Linked DNA regions of Homo sapiens: all the other regions are reported to be linked to region 1. Evidence: microRNA targets listed by miRTarBase, many of them from high-throughput screens and not tested one by one. Region 1 holds a microRNA gene; each other region holds the end of a gene's coding sequence.

Region 1 (3,000 bases):
CAGAATGAAGCTCTTTGGAAGCTGTGAGGTGCACTACCCCACTATGACCACACGATGCCACCCTTGAGCTGCACACGCATTCCCACCCGCATGCTGGCAGCAGGTGGCAGAGCAACAACTGCTTTGCAGCTGGGTGGGATGGGGAGGGTCAGGATAGCATCAGGGGCAGGAGCTCCCGTGGTCACAGGTATTATTCAGCCGTGCCGTTTTGCTCGTCGCCATCGTCCCTTCTCCCACTGCTGTCTGGCTGTCACCTAGTGGGGGCTCGGTTGGCCTCACAAACCTGCAGTAATTGTTCCTGGACCCGTAAACCCAGCCTTTCTTCCTGAACCTCCACAGCAAACCCCCAGCCCCACTCAGGATCCTTTAGCACCTCTGAACTCAGTTGCAGGCGACACGCCAGCTCACATATTGCCTTAAAATGGCCTCCAGCAGCTTCTGCTTAGGGAAGGAATCTTCCAGGGGCCTTGTTTCTTGAGGGCTGTGGCTCTGCAGCAGTAAAGGCCTTGGGGAGGCCTGATGCCACGCCCCCAACCTTGGGCTGTCTCGGCACAAGTGGCCACCCCAGGGCCGAGTGGGAGGATTCCAGATAAGGAGGGTCCCTGGCCCCTGGCCATTTCCTGGCCGCAGAGCACTACGGCACTCGGCACTCGGGAGCCTGGTCATCCGTCTCATTGTCAGTGGTGGACAACAAGATGGATGTCCGTGTGGTCATTCCTGACCTGCCGTGGCCTCACCGCGGCTGCAGTGTCGATCCCCCAGCTATCCGGCATGAGGAGGAGGGACTGGGAATCTACAACAACCTGTAATTGGCATAACCTGTTTTCTGCCCCATTTATTTATTTATTTAGATGGAGTCTTGCTCTCTCACCCAGGTTGGAGTGCAGTGGCGCAGTCTCGGCTCATTGCAACCTCTGTCTCCTTGGTTCAAGCGATTCTCTGCCTCAGCCTCCCAAGTAGCTGCAATTACAGACTTGCGCCACCATGCCCAGCTAATTTTTGTATTTTTAGTAAGAGTCGGGGTTTCACCATGTTGGCCAGGCTGGTCTTGAACTCCTGACCTCAAGTGATCTGTCCACCTCGGCTCCCCAAAGTGCTGGGATTACAGATGTGCCCGGCCCCTGGCCTCTTTAGAGGTGAGGACCCCACTTAGCTGTATTTCACTTCTCTCCATATCATATAGGTCCTCCTCTGTCCTTTATCCCAACATGGTTCTCACCTTTGGGGAAGTTTCCTTAGGCCCCCAACCCAACTCTTGTATATGACCCCTGCTGTCAGCTCTGTCCCCTGTCAGTCCCCTGCCCCCTGAGGGCTGACACCTGTGGGGCCTCCCCCAGGGATGGTAACTCACACCTTCCTCTTTCCCAGGGTGTGCAATTCCACCTCCTCTCTCTAGAGGTCTCTGGATCCTCAGCAAGCAATATTATTGACTCTAACAAGCAATCAAGGACTTTATTTGAAGGATTTGGGGGTAGTTCACAGAATGAAGGGCGCGGTTAAGATCCAGGCCAGGGCAGGGCAGACATTAGGCAAGTCAGTGATACAGGCAGTGGAAGCTTGTCATCTTCTCGCCATACACTGCTGGGATCAATCAGCATCAATTATTTTGTTCCCAATCTCAGTATCCTTTACAGATTTCAATTCTTGTGTCCACCCAGTGGGCAGAAGAGGGCAGGACCTCTTGAGTGACAACCCACCCAGAAGTGTCCATGGTGTGGAAGGGGGTCATCCCCAAAAGGATTTCAGAAGGAGATCATCTGTATACAGAGGACAGAATGCTGGGAGAGCTGTGTGACCTTCATCCACCAAAGCGGTTTTCCCTGGCATGTAATTGAGCCACTCCTTTATTTTTCTTATCTGTGGAGTCTCTCACTTGACATTGCCCACTGGTAAATGATGAAAAGAGTGGCATAAGTGAGGCCCAGAGAGGCTCAGTGCTGGACTTAAAGTCACTCAGCAACTCTAAAGGAGAGCCAGGAGACCCCAGTTCCATTCACTGTTCTTGGGTTTGCTGTGACTCACCTGGAGCCCTTGGGGCAGCCTCCCCTGTGGACAAGGCCTCCCGCAGATACTTTTTGGGGTAAGGGCTTCCTGACTACTGTTGAGAGGAACAGCAAGCCCAGACCGCAAAAAGATCCAAAGGAGACAGCAGCCATCCCATGGCAGGGGGGCTGGAGGGGAGGCTGTGGCCCCTCCAGGGCTTAGCTGGTACCAAGAAGACCGGGTCGGGGAGGGAGAGCCAGGACCTAGGGGGAGGAGGGGAGTGGGGGGGGAGGTGGGGGGAGAGGAAGAAAAGAGTCCTGGGGAGAAGAGAAAGCTGAGAGCCCCAGAGGCAGGAGGCAGGCAACAGGAATCCCAGCTGTAATCCCCCTCCACCTCCCAAAGTCACAACCTCCTTCTTATGAGACAGAAGTGGCCAAGCTGTAGCTCACTCCTGGGAAGGGGCAGTTTGAACCTGCGGCTCCCCTTCATTTTCCCCTTTCATCTCCTGCATCCTGCGCCTCCTCAGAGCCCTCTGCTGTGCCTGGGCTTCATTTGGATGGTCTGGCCCAGGGTCTCTCTGCAGCCGTGGTGCTTCCTTGGTTCCACAGTGTCAGTACACCCAGTTCCCACAGGGGACTCTCCCAGAGTCTCAAAATGCTAAGTGCCCCAAGAAGAAGATGCCATCCCTGGTTGAGACCTTGGGGACAGACATCTTTGAACTTGCAAGTGTGGGCTCTGATGTGCTTTCAGCAGACGCTGCTGTCATGGAAAAGGCAGGGGTCCCAGGGCCAGGCCAACTTAGCCTGATTAAATTGCTCCTGGCTGTCTCAAATGAGCTGTTTCTCCAAGGTGGCAGCTAAGCCCCGCATCTCACAGTGGCCTCCTGCTTCCATAACATGAGGTCAGCAATGCTACACAGAGGTCCCTGAGCCAACCTGGCCTGGGTCTTACCTGCCTTAGAGGCTGCAGCCCTGGAAGAGGCAAGGAGATTCCAGAAGTGTCACCATTGCAGGTTTG
Region 2 (3,354 bases), not on the chromosome of region 1:
GTGCCACTGCACTGCAGCCTGGGCGATAGAGCAAGTCTCTCTCAAAAAAATAAATAAATAAAAAGTAAAATGAAAAGGGGAGTGAGTGCTAACAGGTACAGGGTTTCAGTTTGGGGTAATGAAATGATTACTTTCTAAAATTGATTGTGGTGATAGCTGCACAACTTCATGAATATACAAGATCACTGAATTGCATACTTTTAAGAGTTGATATACATGACATATCTCAATAAGGCTGTTATCTTTTTAAAGTCTTTCAGGAAGTCAAGTAAGAGGCATGTCTTTGTGTGGACTCCATGTGCCACAGTCCTAGGAGGGAGGCTCTGGTGATCACTCGAACCCTGCAGCTCTAGTTCTGCCCCCACATCCAGGTTTGGACTGAGCTATCCCTTGGTCCTGAGCATTTAAACGTTTCTCCCCTGGGCCAGTTGCAGTGACTCATGCCTGTAATTCTGGCACTTTAGGAGGCTGAGGCAGGTGGATCACTTGAGGCCAGGAGTTTGAGACCAGCCTGGCAACATGGTGAAACCCCATCTCTACTAAAAATACAAAAATTAGCTGGGCATGGTGATGGGTGCCTGTAGTCCCAGCTACTTGGGAGGCTGAGGCACGAGAATCACTTCAACCTGGCAGGCAGAGGTTCCAGTAAGCCAAGATAATACCGCTGCACTCCAGCCTAGGCAACAGAGCGACACTCATCTCAAAAAAAAAGTTTCTTCCGCAATCTCCAGAACTATAGCTCCCTACAGAGTGCCACTGGTAAGCCAACTGCAGTTCTTTTTTTTTCTTTCTATGATGGAGTCTCGCTCTGTCGTCCAGGCTGGAGTACAGTGGCGCCATCATGGCTCACTGCAAGCTCCGCCTCCCAGGTTCACGCCATTCTCCTGCCTCAGCCTCCCAAGTAGCTTGGACTACAGGCACCCACCACCACGCCCAGCTAATTTTTTTTTGTATTTTTAGTAGAGACAGGGTTTCACCATGTTAGCCAGGATGGTCTTGATCTTCTGACCTCGTGATCCGCCTGCCTCGGCCTCCCAAAGTGCTGGGATTACAGGCGTAAGCCACCGCGCCCGGCAGCCAACTGCAGTTCTTGAACTACATCAACCTCAACCCAGAGGCCCAGCGGGCACGAGGGCCTGGTGGGAAGGCAGGTGTCCAAGTCTTTACCTGAAGTGCTCAGCAATAAGGCAAAGGTACTGAAAATAAAGACTCAACAAGAGTGGCATCAGGACAACTAGTTACAAGATGAATGTTGATATTGGTATGTACCTTCAAAGGAGTGACATTAAAATTCCAAGCCCTTTAACAAGTGTGCTTAAAAATACAAAAATACTTCTTACACAGGTAGGCATTCATTCTTTTCTGGTCCTATTTTAATCCATCATTTTTATAGCAGTCAATACAAATCAAAAGAATTTTGGAAATGATTCATTTTTTATTCAAATATAACTACATTTAACAATCAAGGTCATGTGGCTTAGAAACCTGAGCTTGGTTTTAGACTCAGACAGACAGTTCATTGTCGGCAGCCATTAAAACAATGTTCTTGACCCAAGACCAGATGAAGAGAAGGGACAAAAGCAATGTTTTCAAGTACACATTAAATTTCATTCAATAATAGTATGTCTTCATAAAACTACCATGAATAAAACAAACGATTCTAAAAGGCAGTGGGCATAAGGAGGGCTGCTTCACAGTCTACCCCAGTCACCACATTGAATAATCGTATTGTGTTTATATCATAAAGTGAAGTTCTAGTCTCATCCCAGTGTTGAGTTCACCTGATGAACCCTGACCCTTTTCCCTGCCCAACTCATCCTGCAAATAGAAATCTTACTTCTAAGGGAATCCATTTGTCTTTCTTCCCATTACTGTGGTTCAAAAACTGATACTACAGCTGCAGAAGGCAACCCAATATTTAAGGATTTTAATCACAGAATCCTGTAACTAAGACTTTCTTTAAAGAAAGACAACCAGTTCTTTTTTATGTCATTTATTTAGAAAAACCCATTTGCCCCTAGTGAATGTACTAACCTTATTTAAACAAAGATAAGTGAGGGAAGTAAGAAGTGATTTGAGGAATGAGCCTGGGATCTGAGGCCCACCACACATTCCTTACCTTCAACTTACCTTTCCAGTCTTCTCCCACCACTGCTCCACCCACCTGAGATTCTAGGTGGAGCAATCTACAGGATACTCTCTGAATGTGGTTCCAGCTTCTCTTGCCTCACACTCTTGCTCATAACATTTCCTTTCCTTGGAAACATTGCCTTCATCTCAGCCCCATTCAGTCTTTACTTGTTCACATCATACTCTTCTTTCAAAACCCAGTGGAAAAGCTCAATTTCTCATGTAGCCTTACCTAACTCCATGCCTCCAGAAAGTCATGCAAACTCATGCCACAACACAGCCAACAGCAACATACCATCGGCATGGCACTGAGAGCAAGCAAAAAGGACACGGGGTGACTTCACTGTCTCCACTTGAAGAACTTAAGGTCTGTCTGGGTGAGGGGTGTACAGTCTTAAATATTACAGCAATCATTTATTAGAAATATTCATCTGCTTCTAAGTTATATAAACACTTTTAATGCAAACATTCAATAGGGCATATTTCCCACTGCTCTCAAGATTTCATCTCTTTCTGCTGCCGTAGGCATAAATGGCTTCACTCCGTTCTTTCTTCTCTGCATCACGATAGAATTCTGTGTACAGGCATTAAAATAAAAAAGAAGAAACCAAAATCAGTCATGTATTAAATGCTAATCATTTGCCAGTAATTTGCTATTGCTTCCTCAAAAAGGAAATTCTAAAAACCAAGTTTTTTTTAAAAAAAAAATCCCAAAACCTAATTATAGGACTCCAGATAAACGTATTTAAATTAGTAACAATTAAATAGAAGTACTCATTCCCACAGGAATACATTAACAGCAATTGGGATGAGAATATACAAAGTACAAAGTACAAAAGTATATACAGTCTGTCAAGAAGAGCTACTGAATAATCGTGAAATAAAACCAACAGTGCATTTAGCAAAGCGAAAGGAAATAGCTGGATCCCGTGGTTCAAGGAAACAGAAATTATATACCAATGTTTTCAGAAAAATGGACCATTTTAACTTCCACGGATGGCAGTGAGAGAGAAAAAGGCAGAAATTGAAGCCTAACATGATGTGTTATGACAAGGGAAGTTAAACATTCTGTTCATCTCCAGGAAAACTAAATTTATAACAAAGACATTGTTTTAGGGCTGCAGATACTTAAATGTCTAAGAAGACCCACCTATATTAAAACTGCATTCTTATAGCTTAGAGGACGACGAGGCAGCTAACAAGAGCTCTCAAGGATCTTTCACG
Region 3 (3,000 bases), not on the chromosome of region 1:
GCTCCCGCCAGCCTAACTCCTTTTCCCTAATTAGGACTTCACAACTAACGGAGGAACTAATAATTAATGTATTGAGAAAAACAGAAAATAATTACTTGTCCTCACATGCACACGTATGTTTATTGCAGCACTATTTACCATAGCAAAGACTTGGAACCAACCCAAATGCCCATCAGTGATAGACTGGATAAAGAAAATATGGCACATATACACCATGGAATACTATGCAGCCATAAAAAGAATGAGTTCATGTCCTTTGCAGCGACATGGATGAAGCTGGAAACCATCATTCTCAGCAAACTAACACAGGAACAGAAAACCAAACACCACATGTTCTTACTAATAAGTGGGAGTTGAACAATGAGAACACATGGACACAGGGAGGTGAACATCACAGACCAAGGCCTGTCGGGGGGTGGGGGGCAAGGGGAGGAAGAGCATTAGGACAAATACCTAATGCATGTGGGACTTAAAACCTAGATGATGGGTCAATAGGTGCAGCAAACCACCTTGGAACATGTATACCTATGTAACAAACCTGCAGGTTCTGCACATGTAACCCAGAACTTAAAGTAAAATAAAATAAAATAATAATTACTTGTCCTAGCATATGGGAATCAAGGAACCAAAAGGCAGTGTTTAAATTATATAAACTGGCCGGGCACAGTGGCTTATGCCTGTAATTCCAGCCCTTTAGGAGGCCAAGGCGGGCAGAATCCTTGACCCCAGGAGTTCAAGATCAGCCTGGGCAACAATACAAAACCCCATTTCTACAAATGATACAAAAAATTAGCTGAGCATGATGGCTCGCACCTGAGTCCCAAGTACTCAGAAGGCTGAGGTGGGAGGATCCCTTGAGCCTGGGAAGTTGAAGCTGCAGTGAACCATGATTGCATCATTGCACTACAGCCTGGGCAATGGGAATGAAACCGTGTCTCAGAAAAAAAAATAATAAAAGTAAAAAATAAAATAAGTGGCATAAACTATGAAGTAGCAGTTGTAACATATTTTTAGGATTATGTGGGTACAGTAGGCATAACTCTAAAGTGGTTTCTAATTGGTACACCAGTGGCCTAGTGTACACCTGCATAATCCCTTCCCCTTTTGTTTGAGTAGGATTTGGGATTATGATGGGATGTTACTCCGTGGTTGGAGTACACTAAATAACAAAGGTGAGGCAGTTTTTCAGATGCAATTAAGGTTCCAAATCCTTTCATCTTTTTTTTTTTTTTTTTTTTTTGGAGAGGAGTCTGGCTCTGTCACCCAGGCTGGAGTGCAGTGGTGCAATCTCGACTCACTGCAACCTCCACCTCCTAGGTTCAAGCGATCCTCTCGACTCAGCCTCCCAAATAGCTGGGATTACAGGTGTGCACTACCACACCCAGCCAATTTTTGTATTTTTAGTAGAGACAGGGTTTCACCATGTTGGCCAGGCTGGTCTCAAACTCCTGACCTCAAGTGATCCACCCGCCTTGGCCTCCCAAAGTGCTGCGATTACAGGCATAAACCACCACACCCAGTCCAAATCCTTCCATCCTAAGTCAATCAAAATTAATTTTTTCATCACAAAAATGATGAAAATAGATCAGCTTTGATTCATAACAGAGAAAACCACTCTAAGTGTTAAAATCAAAACAGAAGATAATGCCTAATGAAAGGAGGTCAGGGGTATAGGATAGTTGGTGGAAAAAAATATTGATAATCATTACATGCTTGCCTGTATTATTTTAAATTTTTTAATTAAAAAATATATTATTTTGTAGTCACATGGACAACAAAACCAAAACATTACAAATCTCCAGAAAGTGCAATGCATAAGCTCTCTTAGTTCAAATTAAACATTTGAAAGATATTATTTTTCATCCTATATCTTTTGTCAGTTACCTGAAATGCATTTTTCCCAAATCAATCTTCATACAAGAATGTGAAGAGGGCCAGGGATGGTGGTTCACACCTATAATCCCAGCACTTTGGGAATCCAAGGTGGGAGAATCCCTTGAGGCCAGGAGTTCAAGACCAGCCTGGGCAACATAGCAAGACCTTGTCTTGACAAAAAATTAAAAATTAAAAATTAGTCGGGCATAGTGACATGGTGCCTGCAGTCCTAGCTACTTGGGAGGCTGAGTCAGGAGGATCACTTGAGCTTGCAATGAGCTATGATCTTGCCACTATGCTCCAGCCTGGGCAGTGTGAGTTAAATTTTATTTTCTAAATTTTATTTGATGTGAATTAAATCTTATTTAAATTTCTGCTGAGAATTAGCAAGAATGTAAATAAAATTACATAAATGTGTAATAAAACTACATTGAATTTAACATTAAATATATACATTAAATGAAAATACAAAATTCTTTATGTTAATTTTATAATTCTCAAATGTAGGTGAACGAATTTCATCAATTTTAAAACACATTGTTTCACATACATGACAATTGTATATGACACTGTTTAAAAACATTTTATAGACTCCAGAAGTAGACAATTAGTAATAATATAACATGCAACTGTATCATTGTTAGTAATGTTGGGTCTTTACTCTCCACCTTCTCTGCCCCAAGAAACATTTAAATGAGCTGTTGCTTACAGATATAACGATTTTTATCTTCACAGGATTCATCTAAAGCATTTCCATTTGGATTATACGCTATGCAGTTCTTTGTATTAAAAGTTTCAAATGATGGAAATCTGTAATGAAGAAGAAAATGTTCACATACACAAAAAGGAAGTAAGAATGTTCAGGGCATTTTTCAATTAAATGATATAAATTTTAAAAGCATTTGAGTGAGATACTAACATATTGAGTCCTTTTTTTTTCAGTAACCACAATTTTCATGATTTTCTAGTGTAATGCTACAAAATACCCAGTTATTTTCTCACTAATCAATAGCATTGAGGCCAGGGATTTTTTCCTTGCTGTTTTTCTGTTGTCATTAATGGTTTAAATATGTGATATGCTTTTCTTCTATTTTATTTAAGATGTATTATCTGATCTAGTCTAGG

Evidence for each region. The annotated mature microRNA hsa-miR-129-1-3p reads AAGCCCUUACCCCAAAAAGUAU and lies in region 1 at 2,069-2,090, opposite strand. An mRNA with a match to its seed (bases 2 to 7 or 8) in the 3' UTR can be bound and repressed. Matches are read on the target gene's strand: a 7mer-m8 pairs with bases 2 to 8, a 7mer-A1 pairs with bases 2 to 7 and ends in A, and an 8mer does both.
Region 2: the mRNA of CHCHD7 is a reported target of hsa-miR-129-1-3p. Seed matches in the 3' UTR shown: 7mer-m8 at 1,297-1,303.
Region 3: the mRNA of KLRD1 is a reported target of hsa-miR-129-1-3p. Seed matches in the 3' UTR shown: 7mer-m8 at 688-694.

Annotation. Positions count from the first base shown.
Region 1 is chr7:128,207,010-128,210,009 of GRCh38, reverse strand. It overlaps MIR129-1 (microRNA 129-1), which reads right to left and starts at 2,138; the gene lies at 2,067-2,138. It overlaps LOC124901744 (a long non-coding RNA gene), which reads right to left. Exons shown (of 2, transcript XR_007060516.1): 1 at 2,935-3,000.
Region 2 is chr8:56,216,681-56,220,034 of GRCh38, reverse strand. CHCHD7 (coiled-coil-helix-coiled-coil-helix domain containing 7) reads right to left here. Exons shown (of 4, transcript NM_001011671.3): 4 at 1,226-2,704. The coding sequence ends at 2,600. Among named protein-coding and RNA genes, the nearest start is that of CHCHD7, 6.6 kb to the right of the region's middle.
Region 3 is chr12:10,314,358-10,317,357 of GRCh38, reverse strand. KLRD1 (killer cell lectin like receptor D1) reads right to left here. Exons shown (of 6, transcript NM_002262.5): 6 at 1-2,685. The coding sequence ends at 2,565. Among named protein-coding and RNA genes, the nearest start is that of KLRD1, 8.0 kb to the right of the region's middle.